Linked DNA regions of Homo sapiens. The protein of the gene in region 1 interacts with the protein of each later gene in a pairwise test. Each region holds a gene or a part of one and is shown in the gene's direction. Other genes may lie near its edges.

Evidence for each region. Proteins that work in one complex are often made in the same cells at the same time.
Region 2: the proteins of FBXL17 (region 1) and ZMYM2 interact in a two-hybrid assay, tested with the Homo sapiens proteins (one large-scale study listed by BioGRID).

Annotation. Positions count from the first base shown.
Region 1 is NC_000005.10:108,372,099-108,375,598, reverse strand, and holds part of FBXL17 (F-box/LRR-repeat protein 17), read left to right. Parts: intron 1-3,500. UniProt on the Homo sapiens protein: Substrate-recognition component of the SCF(FBXL17) E3 ubiquitin ligase complex, a key component of a quality control pathway required to ensure functional dimerization of BTB domain-containing proteins (dimerization quality control, DQC).
Region 2 is NC_000013.11:19,965,227-19,968,726, forward strand, and holds part of ZMYM2 (zinc finger MYM-type protein 2), read left to right. Parts: coding exon of another isoform or gene 1-55; intron 56-3,062; exon of another isoform or gene 3,063-3,176; intron 3,177-3,500. UniProt on the Homo sapiens protein: Involved in the negative regulation of transcription.

The DNA of each region.
Region 1 (3,500 bases):
ACTCAGATTTTCTATTTCCTTTGAGTCAGTTTTTATAGTTTATATTCTAGGAATTTGTCATCTATTTCATCAATTTGGTAGCATACAATTATAGTATTCTCTTATAATTGTGTACTTTTTGTAAGGTTGATATTAATGTTCCCATTTTTATACATGATTTTAAAATTTGAGTCTTCTCTCTTTATTCTTAGTCTAGCCAATTTTGTGTGTGTGTGTGTGTGTGTGTGTGTGCAGGGTCTCTGTCACCCAGGCTTGAGTGCAGTGGTGTGATCATAGCTTATAGCTATGTAAATGGAAGTGCAGCCTTAAACTCCTGGGCTCAAGTGACTTTCCCTCTTGTCAGCCTCCTGAGTAGCTGGGTGCACAGGCATGCTGGCGCATGCCTGGTTAATTTCTTAAATAATTTTTGTAGAGACAGGGTCTTGCTATGTTTTCCAGGCTGGTCTCAAACTCCTGGCTTCAAGCAGTCCTCCCACTTTGGCTTCCCAAAGTGCTGGGATTATAGGTGTCAACCATTGTGCTCGGCCTCATCATTTTAAAGAATAAACTTTTGGTTTTGTTGATCATCTATTATTTTTCTAGTCTATATTTCATTTGTATTAGCTGTATTTTTTCCCCCTTGTTTCTGCTTAGTTTGTATTGAGTTTTCTTTTTATAGTTTCTTGAGGTAGAAGTTTAGGTTGCCAATTCAAGATCTTTCTTCTTTTTAAATGTAGTTACTTGTTTCTGTATCCCATAGATTTTGCTATATGTGTTTGTTTTCATTAATTTCAAATTATTTTCTAGTTTTCTTTATGAGTTCTTCTTACTTGTTGATTGTTAAATTTTCATGTATTTGTGAAATTTCCAGATTTCCTCCTGTTAGTGATTTCCCCTCCTCTTTCCTCACCTCCCTTCTCCTCTTCTCTTTTCTTTCATTTTTTGAAACAGAGTCTCACTGTATCACCCAGGCTGGAGTGCAGTGGTGTGATCATGGCTCACTGCAACTTCTGCCTTCTGGGCTCAAGCAATCCTCCCACCTCAGCCTCTCTAGTACCTTGGATTAAAGGTGCACATGCCACCACGCCCGGCTAATTTTTGTATTTTTTGGTAGAGATGGGAGTTTTGCCATGTTGCCCAGGCTGGTCTTAAACCCCTGGGCTCAAGTGATCTGCCTCCCTCGGCCTCCCAAAATGCTGGAATTATAGGCCTGAGCTGCTGTTCCTGGCCTCTGTTACTGATGTCTAATTTCCTTTCATTGTCATTGGAAAAGATACTTTGTATGAGCTTAATATTTTCAAATTTGTTGAGACTTGACTTGTAGTGTAGTATTTTAGACTTTGGTCTTTGAGAATGTTTTTATGCACTTCAGAAGAATGTGTATTCTATTTTGTGTAGTGTTCTAGAGATATCTGATAGGCCATGTTTAAGTCTTGTTCAAGTGTTCAGTTTACTTGTTCATCTCTTGTCTGGTTGTTCTATCCATTATTGAAAGTTGTACGTTGTAGTCTCCAAGCATTAATGCGGAACTCTTTTTGGTTTTTTTCCTTTCAATTCTGTCAGTTTTTGCTATATGTATTGTTCCATGCTTTTACTCTCAATCTGTGTATATTTTTGGATCTAAATTGAGTCTCTTGTAAACAGTATATAATTGGATTGTGTTTTTACATTTTATCCTGTTATTCATTGTGTCTTTCTTTTTGAGACAGGGTCTCAGTCTGTTGTCCAGGCTGGAATGCAGTGGCACGATCACAACTCACTGCAGCCTCGACCTCCTGGGCTCAAGCTATTCTCCAACCTCAGCCTCCCATGTAGCTGAGACCATAGGTGCATACCACTATGGCTGGCTAATTTTGTCATTTTTTTTGTGGAGACAGGGTCTTGCCATGTTGCCCAGGCTGGTCTTGAACTCCTGGGCTCAAGTGATCCACTCAACACAGCCTCCCAAAAGTGCTGGGATTGCAGGTGTGAACCACTGTGCCTGGCCCTGGCCTTATGTGTCTTAACTGGAAAGTTTAGCCCATTTACATTTAGTGTAATTAGTGATAAGGAAATACATTTACTATTTTATTATTTGTTTTCTCTATGTCTTATATATTTTTTGTTTGTCAATTCCTCTGATGCTGTTCTTTGTGTCAGATATTTTCTAGTGTACCATTTTGATCCCCTTCTCATATATACATATAATTCTCACATTATATAAATAAATATAACATATCTAAATATATTAATATATTTAGATATATATTTATATTAATATATATTTAGATATATTATATTTAGATATATATTAATAAAAATTTAATATATTTAGATATATATTATATTTATATTAATATATTTAGATATATATTATATTTATATTAATATATTTAGATATATATTATATTTATATTAATATAATATATTTAGATATGTTATATTTATGTAATGTGAGAATATGTATATATGAGAATTATATATATAAATAAAATATAGTAAATAATTATGTGTGTATTTCTTAGTATTTACCCTGGGGGTTATAATTAACACTATATATTATAACAATTTAGTTTGAATTAATACCAGTTTAGTTTCAGTGGTATATAAAAACTTTGCTCCTGTATTTGTTGTTATTGTCACAAGTTACAGCTTTATGAATTTTGTGCCAATCAATATAGATTCATAATTACTGTTTTATGTAGTCTTTTAAATCATATAGCAAAGAGGAGGCATTGCAAACCAAAGACACAGTAATATGCACTTTTATATTTACCTATGTAAATACCAACAATTACTGGTATCCTTTAGTTCATATGTGATTTTAAGCCACTGTCTGATCCCCTTACATTTCAGCCTGATGGACTCTTTATAGTATTTCTTTTAGGGGAAGTTTACCAGTGACAAACTTCCTCAGTTTTTGTTTATCTGGAAATATCTTAATTTTGCCTTTATTTTTAAAGGGTTGTTTTACCAGATAGAGGATTCTTGGTTGACAGTTTCCTTTCAGCATTTTGAATATGTTATCCCACTGCCTTCTGGTCTCCATGGTTTCCAGTGAAAAATCAGTTGTTGATTGTATTGAGTGTCCTTTTCACGAGTTGCATTTTTCTTGCTGCTTTCAGGGTTCTCTCGGTTTTTGTCTTTCAACAATTTGATTATGATGCATCTTGATATGAATCCTTTTGCATTTATCCTGCTTGGAATTCATTGAGTTTATGAGCTAGATTCATGCCTTTCATCAGATTTGGAAAGTTTTAGCCATTATTTCTTCAAATATTTAGGCCTCTTTCACTCTCTTTTCCTTCTGTGCCTCCAATTATATGTATATTAGTATGTTTGGTGGGGTTCCACATGTATGTTCATTTTCCTTCAGTCCACAGACTCAGTAATTTTAATTTACCTATCTTTAGGTTTGCTGATTCTTTCTTCTTGTAGAGGTTCAAGGGATTTTGATGTTTCTCAAGAAAGAGATATGATTATAAGAAGTGGTAACACACAACAAGCTTCATTTGGTGGCACTTGGACAGGATTATATGAGA
Region 2 (3,500 bases), on another chromosome or scaffold:
TGTGTATATTACTCTCTGCCGTAGTCACCTGGATACCATCTCTGGACTTACTAGTGTAAGAATTGACAACTAAATTTTTGGGTTTTGTTACTTAACATTAAAAAATGACTTCTCTTCTAATACTGGAACAGTTTTATAATCATTCATTTCAAAGAGGTATGTCTTTTTCCTAGGAAGAATAGTGTTTCTTGGAATATCAAGTTGGACTAGACAGAGTGTTCAGGGTAATAATCAGGGGACTGATTTAACAAATTGGATATTACAACACCTGTTATATATTAGATAGTCATAAAATATGTGTTCTGTTAATTATGGGCTAGCAGTTTCTTTGGCTCTGCTTGGAAGAGCATTTCATCTAGACTTAGTGAATTGTGTTTCTAGTTCTATAGAACTAAGGAAAGGTTTGGGTGGAAGTGAAAATATAAGTTAAATGAAAATTTTATTTTATCCTCCTGTTTAGATTTGTACTTTTTTTCGTTCCAGGCTTGTCATATCTTATTTTAATCATTTTAATTATTTCTGGCCCTGATATGGTATCTGAATTCTTTTTTTTTTTTTTTTTTTTGAGACGGAGTCTTGCTGTGTTGCCTAGACCAGAGTGCAATGGCATGATCTCAGCTCACTGCAACCTCCGCCTCCTGGGTTCAACTTGAAGCAATTCTCCTGCCTCAGCCTCCTGTGTAGCTGGGATTACAAGTGTGCACCACCACACCTGGCTAATTTTTGTATTTTTAATAGAGACAGGGTTTCACCGTGTTGGCCAGCTGGTTTTGAACTCCTGAACTCAGGTGATCCACCTGCCTGGGCCTCCCAAAGTGCTGGGATTACAGGTGTGAGCCACCGCACCAGGCCTGAATTCTTATATATTTATAATTCTATATTTGCTTGTTTTTTTTTTTGTTTTTGTTTTGTTTTGTTTTGTTTTGAGACAGAGTTTCTCTCTTGTTGCCCAGGCTGGAGTGCAATGGTGCAATCTCGGCTCAACGCAACCTCCGCCTCCCGGGTTCAAGTGATTCTCCTGCCTCAGCCTCCTGAGTAGCTTGGATTGCAGGCATGAGCCGCCACGCCTGGCTAATTTTGTATTTTTAGTAGAGATGGGGTTTCTACATGTTGGTGAGGCTGGTCTTGAACTCCCGACCTCAGGTTATCTACCTGCCTAAGCCTCCCAAAGTGCTGGGATTACAGATGTGAACCACTGCACCAGGCCTGAATTCTTATATGTCTATAATTCTTTTTTTTTTTTTGGATACAGAGTTTTGCTCTTGTTGCCTAGGTTGGAGTGCAATGGTGTGATCAGGGCTCACCGCAGCCCCTACCTCCTGGTTTCAAGCGTTTCTCCTGCGTAGCTGGGATTACAGGCATGTGCCACCACGCCGGGCTGATTTTGTATTTTTAGTATAGACGGGGTTTCTCCATGTTGGTCAGCCTGGTCTTGAACTCCTGACCTCAGGTGATCTGCCTGCCTTGGCCTCCCAAAGTGCTGGGATTATGGTCGTGAGCCACCGCGCCCAGCCTGCTTGTTTTTTTACCTAAAGAAAAATTTGCACTTGTTTTAATTAGTTATAGGAAAATCATGATTATAAAATTTAACAAGTTTTAGCTTTATAACTTTACTATGAATATTGTCTCACTTTATTTTGATTTTTGTCTGTCTTATTATTGTATAGTCCTGTTTCTTAGCCAAATAAGTGTTAACTCCTGCCTAGGAAGTCATTCCATCCTATGTCTCTGTACGGTTTTACATTGCTTATGGAAGAGAAGCTTCTGTTCCAGTTAGTCTCTCTTCCATGACACAGACTCCTGACTTCTGTTATTTCATGTTTTCTTTATTTGTATATCACATTTTCCTTTTTCAAGGACCTTACTCTTCTGTTTTCATTCAGTCTTCCTCCTGGACTTACCTGTTCATTTGTCTTTCCTTTTCCTAACTCCTTTTGCTTTTTTTAAAAAAAGAGCACAGTATCTGTAATAGCATCCTATATAAAAGTCTGATTATACTGTCCTTTTAGGGGGTATGTTTCCAAATTACAGTAAACTCGTGAATTTGGTGAGATCATGATATGTGAGTATGGTTCTAGAGATATATGAGGGCCTCACATGGAAAGGGAACTAGTGAGTACTAAGAGAAGATTGGAAGGGTAACGACTTAATTTTGCAGATTTTCTGCCAAAAAAAGCCATTTTTCTCATTGTAGCATGACATGAGTTGGAGTCATACAGATTCAGGCTTAAATCTGCCCTGCTCATGAAGGGAGTTTTGGGGTGATAGAGTGTTATATAAAACTGGATTGTGGTGATTGTTGCAGAAGTATATACATTTAATACATTTATCAAATCTTTCACTTAAAATAAGTAAATTTTACTACACGTACATTATGCTTTAATATAACTATTAAAAACAATTTTGCTCCAGTATTTACCAGTTTGCGATATCAGGCAAGTCATGTAACATCTGAGCTGTAGTTCAGTCAGTTAACAAATGAGTATGGTAATGCCTGGTTTCCTGAGATTGTTGAGGTGAGGACTAAAAATAATACAGGGTATGCAGCTGGCCAATAGTAGGTGCTCAGTTAATAGCAGCTGCAATTCTTAAACTGTCTGTTTATATGGACCAAACATAATGAATTTGCTGCCACCACCTGGTATGGTAAACTTAGTGTGTGCTTATCTGGTAATGACTAGAAGAATTTCTATGTTTCTCTTCACCGACTTCCCTCTTCTGGCTTTTTCATTAGTCTGCAGTGCTTTATCCTCCATCGAGATAAAAATGCTTTATCCTCCAGAATCTCTGCATCTTTTTCTAACGATTTCTTCTTTTCCCTATACTTTTAGAAAGAAATCCACTGTCTGATCTGCACTGTCAACACTATAACAAATCTCTTCTGAGGTCGCTAGTGACCTAATTGCCAAATCTTTTAACTGCTTCTTTTTGTCTTAATTCTGTAACATTTAAAATTTTTGCTTCTGGGGCTTAATGTGGTCTCATAGTTATGACCACCTCCTTCACTTCCCCTCGCTAGACTTTCCTTTTTTTGAGCCAGAGTTTTGCTCTTCTTGCTCAAGCTGGAGCGCAATGGTGTGATCTCGGTCCACTGCAACCTCCGCCTCCCGGGTTCAAGCGATTCTCCTGCCTCAACCTCCCGAGTAGCTGGGACTACAGGTGCACTGGGATTACAGGTGCGCGCCACTGTCCCTGGCTAATTTTTTTGTATTTTTAGTAGAAATGGGGTTTAACCATGTTAGCTAGGCTGGTCTCGAACTCCTGACCTCAGGTGATCTGCCCACCTTGGCCTCCCAAAGTGCTGGGATTACAGGCGTGAGCCACCGCACCAGACCTCCCCTCACTAGACTAATGTTGAGACCTTTAAGTGTCCTTTACTGTCATCTTTAGCTCTTACTATGCTTTTAACTTTCACCTTAGTCTGTTAGAAAACGGAATTATTTACAAGGCAGTTTCTTCCTATTCTTGACTCCATTGTAGCCAGATTAATTTTTCCTAAA